Regions from separate parts of the Homo sapiens genome. Here regions 1, 3 and 4 are each linked to region 2. Evidence: fine-mapped QTL for protein levels in blood plasma. A gene starts in region 2. Each other region holds a variant in brackets. All regions are shown on one strand. Distances are between the middles of the regions.

Region 1 (5,194 bases), 500 kb before region 2:
TAGAACGTCTCTTATGAATAGTGTTCAGTTTGATTTTGTTTTACTCAATATGAAAAGATGAACTTTAATAGGGCTTGCTTTAGACTTACTGTTAAACAAAATGTTAAATACCTATTGTAGTTAATAATTTCAAGCTTCCTTCTCTCATCTTTTCTGGTTTTCTGCTTTTTGCCCCCTTCAGATTCTGTTGCCGTTTCACCAGATTTTTATGTACTTCAAGGTTTTAGAAAGGTCGTGTATTCTGTTCTTAGCTTTAACTAATTTCAGCTTTTTGTATACATTCTAACCCTTATGTTTTTGGCTGCCAGATTCAAGAGTAAAACACGGCATATATTGAAGTCCTCCTGTTTAAGACTACTATTAGGATATTTTGGTTGCAAGAGACTGACATTCCCAATGAAATGGCCTTAATTCCAAGTGGAATGCTTCAGCTCCCATAAGTGCCGAACCTAGGGGTACATCAGCTTCTGACAAGGCCACTCTGGGGTTCACCTTTAGTGACGTGCATTTATGATCGTATAATTATCTGCTTGGCTGTCTGCCCCCATTGGTGGTGGGCTTGCTCAGTGAGCCTGTCAGGAGTGCTTCCGGCTGACCAGCAGTGCACTCAGGTGTAGGCATATTTGATGGTCATGTAACAGCTGTAAATCAGAAGCCAGGCAGTTGCATGGGTCTGAGTGAAGGGACTGTTTACAGAGGCCTGGACAGGGTCCCAAGGACTCACAGGGGACATGGAGGCACCCAGAAGTTAGCAATGCTACGAGCTGTTCCCACTCCAGGCCTGAAGGTCTAGGGAAGGAAACAGTGTTGCCAGAGCTCAGGGGAGGAGTCCCAGACAGAAGGTGCCGCTGGGAGAGAAGGGTGCAGCCTCTCCTGATAAGGGTGCCCAGAGCAGGGAGGGATGGGAGCCAACACCCCAGCCTCTTTCACTTCCCTGCAATCTCTCTCCAGCACCCACACTGGCCAGTGTCGCTGAGAGGCAGCCAAGCTGGCTGGAGTCTGCAGGGGTCGGCCTTCTGAGCCCTGGGTGTCTGGGTGGGGGTATGGAGAGTAACCAGCCGGGGTGGCTTCAGAGAGCTGACAAAACCAGCGTGCATGTGCCAGGTGTGGTGCTTTATGCCAGCACTGTGGGAGGCTGAGGTGGCCAGATCACTTGTGGTCAGGAGTTCGAGACCAGCCTGGCCAACATGGGGAGACCCCGTCTCTACTAACAATACAAAAATTAGCCAGGTATGATGGCGCACGATTGTAATACCATCTACTTGGGAGGCTGAGGTGGGAGGATCCCTTGAACCCAGGGTGCAGAGGTTGCATTGAGCCAAGATTGTGCTACTGCGCTCCAGCTTGGGTGACAGAGCGAGACTCTATCCCCCCAGCACCCCTCTAAAAAAACCAGGGTCCATGTGAGTGTCTCTGCCTTCTCCTGCCTTCTCTCCATGGTGGGGGGAATGCCGGCCGCAGCTCCAAGCCTCCCACGATCCTGTGACACGCTCCCCCCCAGGGAGACATAGGGTGGACACAAAGGCCTGCCTGTGTTATTGTGTGTTGCACTAGGGGAGAAGCTTTCCCAGAGACCCCCAGCCAACTTCCCTAGGCAGCGTTGGCCACAGCTGGGTCACAAGCCCACCACACTTTCCCAGCTACAGGTCAACACGATTGAGTGCCCTGATCACCTTAGACCATCATGATCCACACCAGGGCTCTTAAGCCACCCTCTCTGGCCCAGGCCCACCGAAGGGTACTGCAGGGTTAGCAATTCTCAGGCCCCATCCTGCTTACTTGCCTGCAGGAGTTGACATGATCTCTCTTCTCTGTTGTTTTTCTTAAATTGGCTTTATTGAGGTAGAGTTTACTTACAGTAAAATGCACTCATTGGAAGCGTACAATTTAATGAGTTTTTACAAAAGCACTCATACTTGTAACAACTGCCACATCGAGCTACAGAACACTGGCAACAGCCCAAAAAGTCCCCTGGAGCCCACCTGCAGTCAGTTCCCACCCTGAAACCATAGCCCTGGGGAGCCAAAGATCTGCTTTCTGTCACTAGGATTATTTTGCATTTTCTAGAATTGCATATAAATGGAATCCTATGGTCTGTGTTCTTTTGTGTAGAGCTTCTTTTGTCAGCACGATGGTGTGAGAGTCACCGGTGTTGTGGCTTGTATCAGCAGCTGATCCCTTCTTACTGAGGGTGGCTTTTCACTGCACGAACCTGTCACTGCTGTTTATCCACTTCTTCCATTTTGAAGCAGTTTCTTGGCTTCTAGAGAAACCCTCCTTTTCTCGTTTATCTCCTC[T/G]CCCTGACCTCTTAACCTGGGGGTTCCCAGGGTTCAGGCAGGTCCTTGTACTCGCCCAGTTTCAGGGCTTCACATGCCTTCTAGAGGCAGACCTCCAAATCTCAACCTGCCACCAGTCCTCATGACTTGCGCACACAGATGTCTCCTAACAGCTCCCACTGCACACGCCTGCATGATTTTCTTCTCCCTGCTGTGACAAATGACCACAAACTTCACTGCTGAAGCAAAACAAATGTGTCCTTTCATAGTTCTGGAAGCCAGAAGTAGTGGCGTCAGGGTGTTGGCAGGTGGTTTTTCTGGATGGAGGACGAGCTTCTAGAGGCCGCCTCCATCCTTGGCTCGTGGCCCCTGCCTCCTTCTTCAAAGCCAGCAGCGTAGCATCCTCAAAGGTCCCTTTCTGACTCTGACCCTCTGGCCTCCCTCTTATAAGGACCCACTTTGTAATCACATTGGGCCATCTGAATAATCCAGTATAATTTCCCAATCTCAAGATCCATAACTTAATCATACCTGCAAAGTCCCATTTGCCACAAAGGTGATATATTCTGGGGACTGGGACAGGGATATCGCTGGGGGTCATGATTCCACCTTCAACCATGTCCAGATAAAACCCTAGAACTCTGACCTTCCCTCCACCGGCTCTTCCCATTTCAGACATTGCTCCTGGCTGGCCTGACCTCCCCTCACCCTCACCAGCCCATCAGCAACATCTCTTGGCCCTCTCTCTGAAATACACCCAGGACCCAAACACTCACTCCTCTCACTGGCGCTGGCCCAGGCCTGCACAGCTTTCACCTGGGCTAATGAGCTAGCCTTTGTTGGCCTCCCTGCATTCCAGCTCCTGTCTCACTCAGGGTCAAAGCCAGGGCCTCAGAGTGGCCTGTCCAGCCTCACAGGGGGGGCCTCTGTGCCTTTTGGGCCTTCTTTTCAGCCCCCTCCCGTCCCCCACTGAATGGGGCAGGCAGCCCCTTGCTCCTGTCTGCGTGGTGCTCCTTCTGCCTGGAGCCCCTCACCTCCTTTCAAGGGGGCCTTCCTACTCCACCCCCACCGCTGCCTGCTGGCTTGGTCCCCTCCTTGCTCTGGGCTACTTTCGCCAGCATCGAGCTTCTCATGCATGTGTCCTCTGCTCACCGCCCATCTTTCCCATTAGAAGGAAAGTCTCATGAAGGCGGACTCTCCACCCGTGTTGTTTACCCGTGTATCCTGAGTGGCATTCAGCTCCACAACACGATGGAGGCTCAGCACACATTCACTGAACCGGTGAACCAGGGATGGACATCACCCGGGGCTCAGGGCAGCCAGATCTTCTCAGGGGAAGGCGGCCGGCACAGGCTTGCCTTCCTGGGAGGTGGAGTGAGGACAGGGCTTCCTGTGGGGAGGAGCTCAGTGAGTGGGATGGTGGCCCTCAGAGCTGGGCTTCTGCTGGGGTGGGGTCTGGACCCGGGGATGAGGTGAGACTGGAAGCAGGAGCTGGGAGAAGGAGGCTGCCCTAGGCAGCTGAGGAGGAGGGAGAACATGCTACAGGGCTGGGATATTGGGGGCTGGGGAGGGGCCTCTTCATGAGAGCTGTGCTGCCCATGGTGTGTGTGTGAACGGGTGCATGTGGGTGCCTGTGTGGACATGCCTGTTGGGGGGAGCGTCTGCTCATGGTGCCCACAGGCGTGCTTCTGGCAGTGTGTGTCTGGAGGTGTGATTTGTGTGCATGTGTGTGTCCTTGTATATTTATGGAGCATCTGTGTGTGTGCATGTGTGTCTGTGTCCATGTGCATATGTGCATTCATACATGAGTGTGTCTGAGTGTGCCTTGGTGTCTGGGAGTGAGCGCGTCACCATGCATCTTTCTATCTGGATGTCTGTGCACATGTATAAATGTGTGTGTGTCTGGAAGTAAGCATGTGAGTGAGTAAGAGTCTGCATGTCCTGCTGTGCCCCCGGGCTGGGCATCTGTATGTGGTGTGGTGGCTAGCCGTGCATGGTCATGTCTGGCCCCACGCGTGGCCCCGGAGGGTACACATTTGTGTCCATGCACGCGGTGCCTCTGCAGCCAGGCTGCAGCCAGGCCCTGCCAGCCCGCTCCCCTCCCGCGTCGGGCTGACGGCTGCCTGGGGCAGGTCTGAGGAGCCAGAGAACTCTTCGCGCTGTCACTGTTAGGGAAATCTGTGTCATCAGGCGCAGGACTGGAAAACAGCCAGCGCAGGGGGCCCTTGAGCCCGAGCCCTCCCCGCCCGCGCTGTCACCAGGGCCACGGGGCTCGGGTTAACTGATCGCAGGGAAAAACCCATTAAGCGCCTGCCTCTCCCAGTCATCCGTTATCGCGCGGACGGTCGCTCTTCTTCACGTAATTGGAGAAACTTTTCCCATTACCCGCTGTCTCTGCGAGGCGGCTCTCCCGCCCCCGCACCCTCCCCGCGGCCCCTCTGCCGTCACGCGGGTTCTTTTCCTCCTCCTTAAGAGGCTGACCTAATTTCCACTCTTTGTCATTTTCTCCCGACCAAACTCGGAGTCGGCTTTCTCCAGGAGCTGCTAGGAGCCTGGGCTCCCACTGAGCAATCCAGAGCAGCGTCTCCATTTCCTGGGCTCTCCAGGCCATCGCAGCCCCCGGCCCTGCCACGCACCGGCGCAGCCCCTGCACTCGGGCGGCCCTGCCTCGGCGGGATGAGTTCGTCCGAGGTGCATACAAGATGAGAAACAGAGCGCCGGGTTGCAGTGCCAGGCACCGAGCTGGGCTCCCCGAAGGCAGGCTCCAGTCCCTCTTCCCTGCTTCTTTCCGTGGGAAGGCAGAGCTGACTGTGGTTTCCAGAGGGGCAGCAGCAAAAACGAAAACATACTGTCCTCCTCCAGCGGCTGGGTCCTACCTGGGGAGGGCCTGTGTTCTTCACCAGCCTGGCCCCCAACCC
Region 2 (5,194 bases):
GCTTTGTCACCCAGGCTGGAGTGCAGTGGTGTGATCTCAGCTCACTGCAACCTCCACCCCCTGGGTTCAAGCAATTCTCATGCCTCAGCCTCCTGTGTAGCTGGGATTACAGTCATGCACCACCATGCCAGAGTAATTTTTGTATTTTTAGTAGAGACAGGGTTTTGCCATGTTAGCAAGGCTGGTATCCAACTCCTGACCTCAAGCTATCCACCCAGCCCGGCCTCCTAAAGTGCTGGGATTACAGGCGTGAACCACCGTACCCAGCCTGAGAAGTGGTTTCTTATTGTGGTTTTGATTTGCATTTATCTGATGGTTAATGAGGCTGAGCATGTTTTCATGTGCTTATTGACATTTGGAGGAATGTATATTCAGATCTTTGTCCATTTTAAAACATTGAGTTGTCTTTATTACTGACTTGTAAAAATTCTTTGTATATTCTAGATACATGATTTCCAAATGTTTCTTCCCATTCTGAGGATTGCCTTCACTTAAATTTTTGTTTCTTTTTTTGAGACAGAGTCTCACTCTGTCACCCAGGCTGAAGTGCAGTGGCACAATCATAGCTCACTGCAGCCTTGAACTCCTGTGCTCAAGCAATCCTCCCACCTCAGCTTCCTATGTAGCTAGGATTACAGGTGTGTGCCACCATGCCTGGCTAATTTTAAAATTTTTCATAGAGATGGCATCTTGCTTTGTTGCCCAGGTTGATCTTGAACTCTTGGGCTCAAGTGATCCTCCCACCTCAGCCTCCCAAGTAGGTAGGACTACAGACATGCACCACTACACCTGGCTAATTGATTTACTTAGAGATGGGGGTCTCACCATATTGCCAAAGCTGGTCTCAAACCCCTAGCCTCAAGTGATCCATCCTCCTACCTCAGTCTCCCCCAAGTAGCTGGGATTCCAGGCACATGCCACCACCCCTGGCAGCTTTAGAGTTTTCTTCATTTGGAGCTTACATATCTGGTTTGGTTTATTCCAGTTTTTAATAATTGTTGCTGTGATTGCGATCTTTTCTCCTACTACATTTTCTAAGTGGTTATTGAGGATACACAGAAAAGCTATTGATTTCTGTACGTTATCTTTTATTCAGCAATCTTGCTGAACTCATTGGTTTTCAATTATTTTGCCAACTGATGATCTTGCATTTTCTAGATAAACCTGCAAATAATGAGTTTTCCCCCAATACTTTCATCCCATTTCTTCTATCAGGCCTTGTTGCAGTGTCTCTTATAGAATATTCAATCATTGTGGTGGTAGTGAGGATTATTTTGTTCCATTCACTTAAAAGAGAATGTTTCTAATGTTTCATCATTAAGTATGGTTTCACCATTAAGTATGATAATAAAGGTTTCTGGGAGATACCCTTAATGGAATTGAGGACGTTTCCTTCCATTTCTTGTTTGCTTCTAAGATCTTTGTTTCTTGTAACAGAAAAACAAAACAAAACACAACAAAAAACCAAAGGGATGCTCCTTTCATCCTCAGAGGAGGAAAGAAGAGGGAAGCTGGGTCTAGACACACCCTGGATTTCTCTTTTCCAAGCCCAGCTGACAGCCACTTTTCTAGTACCCCTAACACCCACCAAATAAAAGGTGCTACATTTTGCTCATGTTCTTTCTTTTGTCTGGAACCCATTTCTTCCCTATGCTCCTCCACCCCAACTCCTATTTCTCCTAAGTATTAATATTTAGTCTGGAAGAGTCCCGTGAGATTATCTCCAATGTCTGATGCTATACCCCTGCATAGGGGGGTGGGGATATACTTTGAAAAAGCATATTCAAATAACGATTTGTTATTTTAAAGAAGTGTTTTCCTAATATGGTATATATAAAGTAACATTCCACAAAATTGTGGTTGCTGTATATTTAAGCTGCAGTACTTCTAAAAGGGTAGTCGGGGTTTTTCTCTCCCTAAAAGAGGCTGAGCTTCTTTCTAACTCAGGAACTCTATCAGTGAGCTTTTCCCTCTGCCTTGTAAGTTCTCTCCCAAACCCAATCTCCTACCTAATACCCACTCATCCTTCCAGATGCCAGCCAGCTTACCTTAAATGCTGTTTCTTCAGGAAGGCAAGCATAAGGTTCCCCTCTGTGCTGTCTCCTAGCCCCTTATACTCCTTAACAGACCGACTACCAATTGCAATCATAGGACCATATGTGTGTCCATTTTGTTTTTCAGTCTGTTTTCTCTACGAGCCTAAACTATGAGGACGAGGGATGTGCCTGTTTTATTTACCACTACAGTGCTTGGCATATTAAGGATCTTCAGTTGCCAAAAGGGAGCACATGTTAGAGAAGTCAGCACCTCTCTCATAATCTAAAACCCCCCAGTTAGCAAATGGGGCAAGTGGGGCCCAGAGGTGAGAAGAGATTTACTCAAGGTCTCGGAACCAATCTGATCCTGAGCCAGACTGCCTAGCTCTAAAGTCCAGTTCTTTGCTCTCAGGTTCTCCTTCAGGGCTCACCCAATCTAAGTACCCTGAGAAGTCTTTCCTTACCCCAGGCCTCTGTCCACCCTCACAGTCATTTCCACGCGTCGTCCTCGTCCCATCAGTCCCATCTGCCACAGCTGCCCACTCTGCTTCCCAGGGAACGGGTGACCGCGCGGGGAGAGAGCGGCATCCGGGCGCGAGGTGCGAGGCCCAGGTCTGCGGGCGGCCGGGCCAAGCCCCCGAGCCTCGGCGGTGCTGATTGGCCGGCCTGGCGGGGGGGACGGGCGGAGGGACGGCCGCCCGCGCGTCCGCTTCGTCTCCGCGGGGGCGCGCCCGCGGCACGCGGCCGGGCGGGGCCGGGCGTGAGTGACGGCCATGCGGACCAATGGGGCGGGCGCGCGCCGCCGCCGCCGCCCGCGCGGCCCCTGACGCGGGCCCGGGCGCCGCGCCGCTGCGGCTGCAGGCGGCGACGGCTACACCATGGGCCGGCTGCTGCGGGCCGCCCGGCTGCCGCCGCTGCTTTCGCCGCTGCTGCTTCTGCTGGTTGGGGGTGAGTGCGCTCCGGGCCCGAGCGCGGGAGGGCGGGCGGCGGCGTGGGCGCGGTGCTGGACAGCTCCCCGGGCCGCCAACAAAGGGGCCAGAGTGCGGCGCCGCCGGGAGCGCGCGTGTCCCGGCCGGGCCGCGGCGCCGCCCCGACACACGCGCACGAGGAGTGGGTGCGTGGGGGCCGCGGCGGGCGCCTGGCGTGCCGGGCGACCCCCGACAAAGGCGCGGCGGTGAAGCTGGGACACAGCACCGTGGCCCCCACGCCGCGGCTCTCAGGGGCAGGTGCGCAGGCTGCTGCCTCGCGGGCCGGGGGGGCGCGCACGTGTGGGTGTGCATGTGTGTGCGTGTGCTTGTGTGTGTGCGAGTGCATTGTGTGCCTGCGCACTCGGGGGAAGAGGCGTGTGTGACAGCCACGCGGGGAGGAGGCCGCATTGTGAAGGTCCCAGGGGCCGCCTGCGGAGTGTGGGGCGGGTACGCTGAGGCGCGGGTGGCTGTTTACGCGTGGCGTTGCCGGGAGGGAGTGTGAGTGTGTCACGGTGAATGGGTATTCTCTCCTGTTCTGGGCGACTCTATTAGGAGCTGACAAAAACGGGCGTACAGCCACGGAAGGCCCGTGACAGCACACGGCGGGAGGCTCCCACGCAGCTCACACACGAGGGAGGTGTGAGACTCAGATGTGTGGTTTCCATTCAGCAGCCACGCCGGGCGGCGGGCTGTGTGGGTGCGTGGCGGGCTGGGGGTGTGGCACAGGTGTGAAAGGGATGTGTCTGCCTGAGAGAGAAAGAGACGGGCCTCCTGATGGCTTCCAGCGCAGACGGGGATTTAGTGGAGGGGGTGTGTAGGGAGGTGGGCATGGGGTGTGACAGCCCATGAGGCAGGCGGCCACTATGGAAATGGCGGGGAGAAGGGCTGTCTGCAAAGGTGGGTCAAATAAGGTCATAGCTGAGCAGCTCCTGCACACACTGGCAGAGCAGAGGGAGTGTGTTACGGTGTATGTTAAGGTGTGACTGGTGCTGCTGGAGGAATACCCGGATGAGGAAGTGTGCATGTGTGCCTGTGCACACTCATCAGCCAGCTGTAACTTCACTTCTGATGCACACGTCAAAATAGCGTCCTAGTATGATGTGTGTATGTGCATGTAGGAGTGTGTATGTGCATGTAGGAGTGTGCACAGGACATTTCCCACGCAGCTGGCCCATGAAGACACAGGCACTTTGTGTCCAGATGTGTGTGAGTGAAAGAGAAACTAGTGAAGGGTCTCTATGGGAAGGGAGGAACAGTCTTTGCCTGAGGTGGGCCATGAACCTGGGACTCAGAGTGGCAGAATCCCAGGGTAAATGGCTGGGAGGGGAAAGTGGTCCCTCGCACATTCCTGTGCATGTCATGGGAAGGCTCAGTTCAGGGAGGGTACATTTTCTCCACAGTCAGTCTAGGGATGAAGAAAGGCCCTAGGTGGTGTGCACAGAAAAACATGTCCATCAGTGTTGGCTCAGACACTCACACAAACCCACCTGTATTCTTTCACGCCGTAAATCCTCTTTGGAAAAAGGCGACATTCAATAAATAAACATCAATTGATTGGTCTGCTATTTCTTTGTGTGACAGTCATAAACCAGAACTGGCCAGCAACGTCCTCATGGACCCAGGCCCAGCTGTAACTGCCCATGTGCTTATGTGACCAGCTGTGAGGACTGCAGGCAGCCTGCCTCCCGGCTCCTCTCTCCCGTGCATGCTCTTCATGACGCACTTCTTACCCCCTGCTTGGAGGGCATGTGCGTGTGTCTAGCAGTGTGTCTCTTTCTTACACACCTTTGTGTGGAAGCCCTTCAGGGACCTGTCAGCATTGTTTCTCAGGTGCTTACAGAGTGGAGGTAGCGTGACTGTGCTCAGCAGTTCCTGTTGTCGCTGACACTTAAGGGTGAGGAGCTGTGTGACAGATGCTGCAGGGCCCCTCCCATGTTGGTGTCTGCCAAGAGCTTAGGGAGACTGGACTTCAAAGACCCTGCTTAGGGGAGAGGTGGGGTGTAGCTGATGGTGGAAATCAGAAAGGAGTTTTGCACCGGGAGCAGATCACAGGGACTGATTTGAAAAGGTAAGATAAAACATGAGGATCGCTGGGGTCTTGTTTTTTTCACCTCCCCAAATGTCAGCCTGCTTCCTTTGCCTCCTTCTGTGTTTGTTTGGGTCAGATTTTCATTTCTTTGAGGCTGATCC
Region 3 (5,000 bases), 110 kb after region 2:
TTCAGCTTCATGCATCCCTGCCCAGGCAGGGCTGGGTGAGGGGAAGGGCTCCTTTCACCTGGGTTTAATGAATGAATAAGCACTATTCCAAATTTGAATTCAGCTAAGATGTAATGAAGGCAAAGAGAAAAGAGCCTCATTTGTTAAGCACTTGCGGTATGCCTGGCCCCATGCCAGGCCATCAGGCCTGCTACTCCTCTTGTTTGTTTATTTATTTATTTGTGTATTTTTATTTTTTGAGACAGGGTCTCACTCTGTCACCCAGGCTGGAGTGCAGTGGTGCAATCTCGGCTCACTGCAGCCTCGACCTCCTGGGCTCCAATGATCCTCCTGCCTCAGCTTCCCGAGTAACTGGGACCACAAGCGCATGTCACCACGCCTGGCTAATTTTTGTATTTTTTGTAGAGACAGGGTTTCACCTTGTTGGCCAGGCTGGTCTAGAACTCCTGACCTCAAATGATCCACCTGCCTCGGCCTCCCAAAGTGCAGGGATTACAGGCATGAGCCACTGCGCCCGGCCCTCCTCTTGTTTAATAATAACCCAAGCTGGGAGGGAAGAGTCACCATCTACCAGTTGGAAGATGAGGAGGCTAAGGCCAGTAGCACTGTATCCTGGAGGTGGCCAGTAATTACAAATGACCTGGGCAGATGTTCCAGTGAGGAGAATACAGGGCCACTTTGGTCTGTAGCCTCAATTTTCATAATGACCCTTATCATAGCAGTGAGCATTTATTGAGTGCTTCCTGTGTGCCCTGCTCTGTGCTAGCCACCATCCATTCCCTCCCTCACTAATCCTCACAGCACCCTCTGATGTGTGACTGTAGTAAGGTGGAGGTCACCTCTGTGTGACCTTGGGCAGTGACTTCACTTCCTGAAGGCTCAGCCTCGTCACCTGCAATAAGGGGCACTCACAAGCCCACGTCAGAAGGTGCTGTGAGAATTAGTGAGGGAGGGAATGGATGATGGCTAGCACAGAGCGGGGCACACAGGAAGCACTCAATAAATGCCCACTGCCATGATAAGGGTCATTATGAAAATTGAGGCTGCAGACCAAAGCGGCCCTGTATTCTCCGCACTGGAACATCTGCCCGGGTCATTTGCAATTCCAGGACATCACTGGCCACCTCCAGGACACAGTGAAATCATCAACTGCTTCTTTTTTTTTTTTTTTTTTTTTTTTTTTTTGTGAGACAGGGTTTTGCTCTTCTTGCCCAGGCTGGAGTGCAATGGCGCAATCTTGGCTCACTGCAACCTCCACCTCCCGGGTTGAAGCAACTCTCCTGCCTCAGCCTCCCAAGTAGCTGGGATTACAGGCATGCACCACCACACCTGGCTAATTTTTTGTATTTAGTAGAGATGGGGTTTCACCATGTTGGTCAGGCTAGTCTCGAACTTCTGACCGCAGGTGATCCCCTGCCCTAGTCTGGATTATAGGCATGAGCCACCGCCCATCAACTCCTTCTTAAAACGGGCATTAATTATGCATTCACATATGGCACATGGTAATATTATCTAAGTAAGAATAACGTAAGAAGTGCTCGTGTGGCTAGGCGCAGTGGCTCAGACCTGTAATCCCAGCACTTTGGGAGGCCAAGGTGGGCAGATGGCTTAAACCAGGAGTTTGAGACCAGCCTGGACAACATGGTGAAACCCCACCTGTACAAAAAATACAAAAAATTAGCCAGGTGTGGTGGCACATGCCTGTAGTTCCAGCTATTCGGGAAGCTGAGGCAGGAGGATCGCTTGAGCCCGGGAAGTTGAGGCTGCAGGGAGCCGTGATTTCACCACTGCACTCCAGCCTGGGTGACAGAGTGAGATTCTGTCTCTTTAAAAAAAAAAAAAAAATGTGTTCTTGGTTCCTGGAAGCAGGAAATGGTAACCTAGATCTTTCTTGTTGATTCCTCCAGCAAACACAGGAGCAAGCCACGCCTTGGGAGGCCTTGTTTCTGGAATCACAATTCTACCTCCCAAGGAGCTGCTGGTGGAAGGGTGGAGGCTGGTCAGGCTTCTGGTGTTCAGCACCCACTCAGCCCTGGGTTGCTCACAACCATGGACAGGCAGAAGGAGGTCCTGGGCAGGAGCCATCTGCCAGGCTGGAGCACCCTGCAGCCTGGGTCCCACTCCTTGGGCCTGCCTGCAGAGAGGTTAGAAAGGGATTATCTGGCCCTCTCCATCTGGGCACACTGCTCAGCTTCCAGCATGGGGGAGAAGGCCAGTCCAGCCCCTGTAGGAGTGAGCACTCCTGAGTACCAAGCGGCAGGGTGGTGTGAGGGGCTTCTGCAGCAGGGCACAGAGTCCCTGGATGCCAACTGACAGTGTGACTGTATAAAGAAGCGGTCCCAATCTGCACCAGCCGCACAGGCCAGCTATGCTTACATTTACATCAGTTAAAATGAAAAAGCAGAAAAACTCAGTTCTGTAGTCTTACCAATGCCCTACGGCCACACGCAACCAGTGGCTTCCACGCAGGATGGGCAGAGGTAGAACATGTCCACCATCGCAGAAATTTCTAGTAGGCAGCATTGAAGATGCCTTCAATTCAGGAGGCACCAGGTGGAATGAAGGAAATGCCTGTGTCCATTTGCCTGCATCTTAAATGATACACACTGCATCTCTGCTCTGATTGCAAAAGTAAAACATGTTCAAGGGAGCTATCTGGGAAAAATCCCGAAAAGCCTCAAGTGGCCGCTGAGTGCAAAGACCCCAGAATGAGACTTCTTCAGATCAAATCCGGATCCACCACAGGGAGGCCTCTTGTGGGGGGTTCAACTTCTTTGAGGCTCAGTCACCTCCTTTGCAAATTGAGGGTAGTGAAAGTCCCCACCTCTCTGGCTTGTTAGTGAGTTTAACTGAGATAATTGCTATAAAGTGCTTAGAGCAGTAAGACACAGAGTAAGTG[G/C]GCAGTAAATATTGGTTGTAGAAATAAGAACTAAAAGTCAAACCACTCCTGCCAACCAGAAATAATTAAGTATTATTAGTTTGGTCTCCTTTCAATAACTTGCCAACGTGAACTGTATGAACTGGCCTGGGAAGACCTCCAAGAGCCACTGTGGATAGAAAAAGCTTAAATTGCTGAATGACGCCTACGTAGCTCACCACTGATGCTTTTAAAAACCCACAAAATACTACTGTTTCCTTTGGCTCATACGTGATATCAAAGCAGAGAGAAAGCTCTGGAAGATTATACTGCAAACCGGCCATGCTGGTGACCTTATGGAGGGCTTTGGGATGGAGCAGCAGGCCTGAGATTTCATTCATGGAACTCTTACATGGACAACTGGATGCCACGCAGGGGTGTGGACCAGTGGTACTGTGCTGCTTCTTTGAGGCTTTGGGGGTTCCTGGAGATGCTTTCTACCATCCTCCAAGTGTGCATGCAGCCAGCCCCCAGTGCACCTTTGCTAAGCACTTGCTGTATGCTGGCCAGTGTCTAGGTGAAGCACGTATAGAGACTCATAAAATGCAGGTGTGGGCCTGGGGCCAGACACACACACAGCGAGTCCCCTTGCCTGTGTGGGAGCCCGCTCAGAGGCCTGCGGGCCAGCAGGCAGCTCTGAGTGGGGAAGCCCTGGCCTCAGCAGGTCCAGGCCGCACAGGAATGTGGGTCCAGCGTGGCCCAGTCTTCCAAATGTTCAAGATAAGCTAGAAATCCAGTTTTAAGGTCAAGTCTCCTAGTTCTCTTTTTAAAAACTTGTGGTAAATGTGCATAACCTAAATTGACCGCCTTCACTGTCCGAAGTCACCACTTGTGGCATGAAGCTCGTTCACACAGACATGCAGCTACCAGCACCATCCAGCTTCGAACCCTGCCATCCTCCCCAGCTGAAACGCGGTCCTTGTTCAGCAACTCTGTCTTCCCTGCCCCCACCCCCTGGCAACCACCACTGACTTTTTGTCTTCATGAGTTTGACTGCTCTAGGACTTCATGTAGGTGGAATCATAGAGTATCTGTCCATATCAGTTCCAGTTTTAAAAAGTCTGAGTGGACTTCGCAAAAACCCCTCTGAGGACTGCCGGGACCCAGGTCGCCGTTTGCTGGCCTCACCCTCCAGCTTAGAGAATTCAAGAGAAAGGAAGGCAGGGGCTCTGCGGGGGCCCTGAGGTTCCAGTTCTGTGGGGGTTGTGCAGGGCAGTAGGGGGTACACCCCAAGGGAAGTGGCCTGTGGTCTGAGTCACGTAAACTTCAGGATGAAAATATATTCCAAGTGGAGGATGAAGTCACCAGTGCGGGGACAATGGTGTGACGCTGGCCTGGAAGGAAAGCTCCCCACACTGAGGGTGGAGGTGAGGCTTGCAGGGGCCAAAATGTGGCCGTGTCGACGTAGTGTGGGGACCTCCCAGGGCTGGATTCTGGACGTCTGTTTTCATACAAGAACACAGCACGGGAAAAGTGTTCTGTTCAGCCAGGCAGGGCCTAGGGGAGTAGAACGCCCCCAAAGCAGTGCAAGCTTTCCCTGGGGCTGGACTGGCCCAGGCTGCAGGTACCAATGCCTGGCCCCAGCCAGCAGGGAAAATGCTGCTCCCCACGGCTACCCCCAGTGAGCACAGAGCCTGACCTGGTAGACCTAACCACTGGGCCTTCAGCCACAGTGACCAGTGACAACCTCTCTGTGGCCAGGTGCCTGAGCTCAGCTGTGCCCAAAGAGAGACAGGACAACTAGGTCTCTGTTTCCTCTACATTCCATGGATACAATGTTCTTCTTCTTCATCACAGGAAACACATCCAGTAGCACCTAGGATGTGACATCCAGAGACACAGTGGGGTGGAGTGAATGAGAATGGAAACATACAACATGGTGTGTGTGGCGACCCCAGCTCCAGGCCATGCCCACTCCTCATGCTTTCTTGGGGGGGAAAGTGGACCTGTCCAGCACAGACTGTGGGGTGGCCCTGAGTGTGGCGCTGGATGCCAGGGCAGGCTGGGTGCTCCCAGGGGGCATGGCCCTCTCAGGCTCTTCCCAGCCAGACCCCATCTCCCAGGAAAGACAAAGCCGCCTGGT
Region 4 (5,194 bases), 32 kb after region 2:
TTAAATAACTTACTTAAATCTCTTGGAATCTGTGGATAGTAACACTTTTAAATCTTTGCATGTATGAGAATGTCTTTATTTTGCAATCACACTTGAGTAGTCATTTATTTGGATATAACATTTCAGGTTCAAAATAAACATCCCTCAGATTTTTCAGTGCATTTTTAAATTCTTCCTCTAGGCTACTGATATTAATTAGAAGCTTCATGATAATTTGGTAATCTGTTTCTTGTTCCTTTACAGATAACCTGTTCTTTCTCTGAGAGCTGTTAAGATTTTCTCTTGCTCCTTATAATTCTAAAATCACATGAGAATGAGGCTAGGTGTAAGTCTTTTATCATTCACCTTGATGATACAAGCTTTCATTGCAAAGATTCATGTTGCCAGCTCTGAAACTTTTTTTCTTTGTTTCTCTCCATTATTCTCCATTTTGTTGGTTCTATCTTTCCAGAAATCATATTAGCTAGGTATTAGATCTCCTACATTGGTTGTCTGTATCTTTTAACTCTTATCTGTTGTCTTCTCACTTTTGCCCTAGAGGCTTTTCCTTGACTTTTTTTTTTCCCAGCCATTAAAAATTTGAATTTTCAATCCGTTGAATTTTTAAATATCAACTATTGACTTTCAATATCCAAGAAATTTTTCTTTTTTAAAGATTACTTGATTTTCTGAGTGGCGTCTTATTTTAGGGATGCAATATTTTGTAATCTTTCTGAGGATACTAATTAGACTTTTAAAAATTACCTTCTGTTCTCTGAATTTTCTGTGTTCTACATCCTTGCTCCCACAGTTGTGCCTCTTCCTAACTCTGGGTAAGAAAGCCTGCCTCCTCCCCTGCTATTTTTTCCTATGTTTATTTTGGCTGAGGGGTTATCTGTTCCTATAATCTCATCTGCTTTCCATGTTCCCAGAAATTTCTCTAAAATGTTTTTATCTTCATTTTGACAGTTAAAATTGTTTTTGTCATTTGATAAAAGTTTTGGAGGAGGAGGTAAATGAATACCTTTAGTTCGCTATCTTAAAGTGTTCCCACCACTCTCCTTTCTAAAGAGTATTTTAAAACTACAATATTTATTATTTTGAAACAAAATGGCAGCCAATAAAAGTTGCTTCCTAGATACAGCTTCTGATATTTTGAATGAATTTCCAAAAAACTTGTTGTATAACTTTCATGCATAGTTATTTGGAAGAGGCCTAGGGTTCATTGAAAAGCCAGAAAACAATCTGATCTCCAGGAAGTCTCCTAACTTCTCTGCTTCAAAATGTAATTCCCAAGAATGGCAGGGAGAATAAAAACCCCTCTCCCATTGCCAACAGTGACCCTGAACATTCTGGGAGGCCCTGGAAAACTCTGGGCTCAGCCCCTGGCCTCTCTCTGGCTCTCCCTACATCTTTTTCATTTCCTGTCAGGGCCTAAATTACAGAAAAAGAGCACAGTTGAGGAACAATGGTCATAATTGAGGGGTCTCACTTCCTCCAGTGATGAGAGGGCTCTCAGACCTCCTTCGGGGACTCCACCAAGAAGACTCTTATAACGACTCACTAGAAAAGGAGTAGGGGGACCCTTCCTAGTGGGTTGTTGTGGGATCTTCTTGGTGAAATCCCCAGATGAGGACAAGCAAGCACATTACAAACACAGTGGAGAATATATACCTCAAACTACTCATGGCTCTTTTGGAGGAATGCAATATACAAAACTTTCTACATTCCTGTGTTCATTGAGTTTTGGTGATAAATTTGTATTATTTTATCATCATAAAGGAAACAGTGACTAGCCTTGTCCCTGTGTCCTCCCACAGTCTGCTCCCCTGGCCTCTCCATCATGACCTGATGACCCCTGCCCTGTCAGTGTATTGTGGTTCTTTTATGCCATCTGCCCAGTAAATACTGAGTAAAGCAATGAATGATGAAACAAGTGAATGAACTTTTCATCTCTGTCCTTAGATTATGTTTTTCCTGACTTAACTGAGAAGGCAGGTTCCATTGAAGACACCAGCCAGGCTCAAGAGCTGCCAAACCTCCCCTCTCCCTTGCCC[A/G]AGATGAATCTGGTTGAGCCTCCCTGGCATATGCCTCCCAGAGAGGAGGAAGAAGAGGAAGAGGAAGAGGAGGAGAGGGAGAAGGAAGAGGTAGAGAAACAAGAGGAGGAGGAAGAGGAGGAGCTGCTCCCTGTGAATGGATCCCAAGAAGAAGCCAAGCCTCAGGTCCGTGACTTTTCTCTCACCAGCAGCAGCCAGACCCCAGGGGCCACCAAAAGCAGGCATGAAGACTCCGGGGACCAGGCCTCATCAGGTGTGGAGGTGGAGAGCAGCATGGGGCCCAGCTTGCTGCTGCCTTCAGTCACCCCAACTACAGTGACTCCGGGGGACCAGGACTCCACCAGCCAAGAGGCAGAGGCCACAGTGCTGCCAGCTGCAGGGCTTGGGGTAGAGTTCGAGGCTCCTCAGGAAGCAAGCGAGGAAGCCACTGCAGGAGCAGCTGGTTTGTCTGGCCAGCACGAGGAGGTGCCGGCCTTGCCTTCATTCCCTCAAACCACAGCTCCCAGTGGGGCCGAGCACCCAGATGAAGATCCCCTTGGCTCTAGAACCTCAGCCTCTTCCCCACTGGCCCCTGGAGACATGGAACTGACACCTTCCTCTGCTACCTTGGGACAAGAAGATCTCAACCAGCAGCTCCTAGAAGGGCAGGCAGCTGAAGCTCAATCCAGGATACCCTGGGATTCTACGCAGGTAAAGTGAGGGGCATGCGGGCCACCACCCTGTACCTTCTTCACAGAGCCTGGCCATCCCCAGGGCTAGTGTGGCATGGGGGCAGGATCTGCCAGGTTGAGGAGGGAGGCCCTTTCCACAGCACGTAGAACCCCATGGAACTTGTGGGGATGCAAACCTCAGGGCCAACAATGGGTGTTCTCCCCACACTTCTGTGCAAAGGCCTTTGGAGAAACTTGGTGGCCTGGCCTGGGTTTCATTTGTTCATGTGTTACCATTGCCACCCTTAGACATCTTTTGTTTTTTTTTTTTCCCGAGATGGAGTCTCACTCTGTCGCCCAGGCTGGAGTGAAGTGGGCATGATCTCGGTTCACTGCAACCTCCACCGCCCAGGTTCAAGCAATTCTCATACCTCAGCCCCCTGAGTAGCTGGGATTACAGGCATGTGCCACCATGCCTGGCTAATTTTTGTATTTTTAGTGGAGACAGGGTTTCACCATGTTGGCCAGGCTGGTCGGGAACTCCTGACTTCAAGTGATCCACCCGCTATGGCCTCCTGAAGTGCTGGGATTACAGGCATTAGCTACCGCACCCAGCCCACACTTAGACTTCTGCACTGATTCTACCAGCAGCTAGAGCTAGTGGCTGACCTGTGCTTTCCCCATCCCATCTCACCACCCTCCTCCTCCCCACCGACACCCATGTGCATAGCAGGCACAAGTCAGTGTTCACACCCACTGACACCGCAAGGAAAAGAAAGGAGCCCCAGAATATTAACAATAAACTTGCCCTTGAAAGCCAGCATGTGGGGCAAGCTCTCTGCAGCCTGGCCCCTTTGATATAGTCCCCTACTTCCTGGGAATAATGCCTGGCCTCCTCCTCTCACTCAATACATTCCCTGCTTGGTCCCCAAAGACATTCGAGTTTGTACTCCTTGGCATGGTGCCTCACAGAGGCTGTCAGCAGCCCCCTCGCTGTAATACGCCTCCACTGGCCTCCACCTTCCAGCTTCCCAAAAGGCCTCCGACCGGGGCTCTCTCCCCTGTCCCTTTCCTATGCCTTCGTAACTGTCGCCCTTCTTTCTGTCTCCTCGCACAGGTGATCTGCAAGGACTGGAGCAATCTGGCTGGGAAAAACTACATCATTCTGAACATGACAGAGAACATAGACTGTGTGAGTGCCCAGCCAGGCTCCGAACCGCAGGGAAAGGCTGCAGGCAGTGGACAGGGTGGGGCAGAGGGCAGGCTGGGGGGACAAGCAGTGCGTGGGAGAAGGCTTAGTCCTTCAGTTGGTGGCCCAGGGATATACCAGCAGCCATCAACATTACACACAGAGAGCTTTCGTATTTTAAAATGTCCAAAGGCTCTTTGGTTCTTGCTTCCCTCTCTTTTTAATTTAAATGAATACTTTGTTCATGTGTGCACCATCTTACCTCTCCCGTGATATTGAAACCTTTCTGTCTTTTTTAGAGTTGTTTTCTTCCTGTATAGGTTGCTTTTCTCCGTTTTGGGTCTCAGCCTTTTCATATATATACATGCTCTCCACACATGTCTGGTGGAGTTTGTTCATAGCTCTCTCTATCGAAAAAGTGGCTGGAAGCTTTGAGCATAGTGCTAGGGTTGTCAGCTATGGCTTCTCATGAGAGTGGTCTGGCTGGGCCGTATCACTTAGAAATTTGCAATGGCAGCATTGTTAGGTCCTTCCTCCTGAGGTGATTAGAGTCTTTGAAAAGGGAACTTCTGTTCTGTTCGAAGTATAACAAGTTGGTTGTCAGTGTTCTGGGAGCTGGGGTGGAGAGAGAGGGCTGGGTGTTTCAGTATTATAAATATGTATCCATAAATATCAATATTCATGTACTGTCTCTTCCTGTTTGCAGAGTGACCTTCTCCCTCCCCAAAACACACACTTGTGTCTGATGCTCTCTAGGTCAGAGACCCTCTGTTTTATCTTTTTTAAAGAATAAACTTCCAGTCTTCTGCCAGGGAGAAGGGACATTTCTTGGCTGTGCAGCACTGCGGGAAGAACTAGGGACCCAGCCGTTTCTTAAGCAAACTTTCGACCAGCTCATATTTTTAGTAGCATTTTCATCCCCTCTTCCAAAGGTAACCAGGGCCCCTATTCCGGGGCATCTGGGGAGTGTCAATCAGTATGCATCTGATTGCTTCTCAGCTTTCCTCATTTTGGCTTAGGGTTTGGCTCTTTAGAGTTTGCTAAATTAGGAAATTCTAACTCACCATCTGCTTCCAGTGTCTAGATTTTGTTGCTCTTGTCTCCTCTTCTGTTTTGCTTTGTCTCTGGTTTTAGGCCTTAAATTCTTTACTCTTGTTAGTGGGCCTGGGCAAGACTGAAGGGACATGCATGCGTTGAATCCAAAAGTCCCCAGCAAGGTTGGTTTCCCCCACCATCACTATACTGATGGATCTTCACCTAAGTGATGTGTGTTTTCATCCATTGCAGTTATTATTTTTACTGATGCTCAATACCTCATC

Direction of the effects. Positions count from the first base shown, and alleles are read on the strand shown. Strength reflects both the effect of a copy and how common the allele is.
As copies of G replace T in region 1, the plasma level of the protein whose gene starts at base 2,880 in region 2 goes down (moderate association).
In carriers of allele C in region 3, the plasma level of the protein whose gene starts at base 2,880 in region 2 tends to be lower than with G alone (strong association).
As copies of G replace A in region 4, the plasma level of the protein whose gene starts at base 2,880 in region 2 goes down (weak association).

Evidence for each region. PIP is the posterior inclusion probability: the model's chance that the variant is causal. Protein levels are from antibody-based Olink assays in UK Biobank. Linkage for the fine-mapping came from a reference panel and not from the study's own genotypes, which makes the PIPs less certain.
Region 1: its variant is fine-mapped to the plasma level of the PODXL2 protein (UK Biobank, PIP 0.90).
Region 3: its variant is fine-mapped to the plasma level of the PODXL2 protein (UK Biobank, PIP above 0.99).
Region 4: its variant is fine-mapped to the plasma level of the PODXL2 protein (UK Biobank, PIP 0.99). The variant lies in the coding sequence of PODXL2. If it changes the protein, the assay may bind it differently, which can mimic a change of level.

The regions. Positions count from the first base shown.
Region 1 is chr3:127,130,976-127,136,169 of GRCh38, forward strand. No RefSeq gene overlaps it. Among named protein-coding and RNA genes, the nearest start is that of PRR23E, 60 kb to the right of the region's middle. The variant T/G (reference allele first, on the strand shown) is at 2,298.
Region 2 is chr3:127,626,306-127,631,499 of GRCh38, forward strand. It overlaps PODXL2 (podocalyxin like 2), which reads left to right and starts at 2,880. Exons shown (of 8, transcript NM_015720.4): 1 at 2,880-2,984. The coding sequence starts at 2,915. It overlaps LOC107986126 (a long non-coding RNA gene), which reads right to left and starts at 2,658. Exons shown (of 2, transcript XR_001740892.2): 1 at 2,501-2,658. RefSeq lists silencers at 2,813-2,882, 2,993-3,122 and an enhancer at 3,523-3,582.
Region 3 is chr3:127,736,475-127,741,474 of GRCh38, forward strand. The region is part of intron 3 of MGLL (monoglyceride lipase); the gene reads right to left. Among named protein-coding and RNA genes, the nearest start is that of ABTB1, 66 kb to the left of the region's middle. RefSeq lists an enhancer at 1,501-2,063. The variant G/C (reference allele first, on the strand shown) is at 2,900.
Region 4 is chr3:127,658,434-127,663,627 of GRCh38, forward strand. PODXL2 (podocalyxin like 2) reads left to right here. Exons shown (of 8, transcript NM_015720.4): 3 at 1,945-2,726; 4 at 3,804-3,878. Among named protein-coding and RNA genes, the nearest start is that of ABTB1, 12 kb to the right of the region's middle. The variant A/G (reference allele first, on the strand shown) is at 2,037.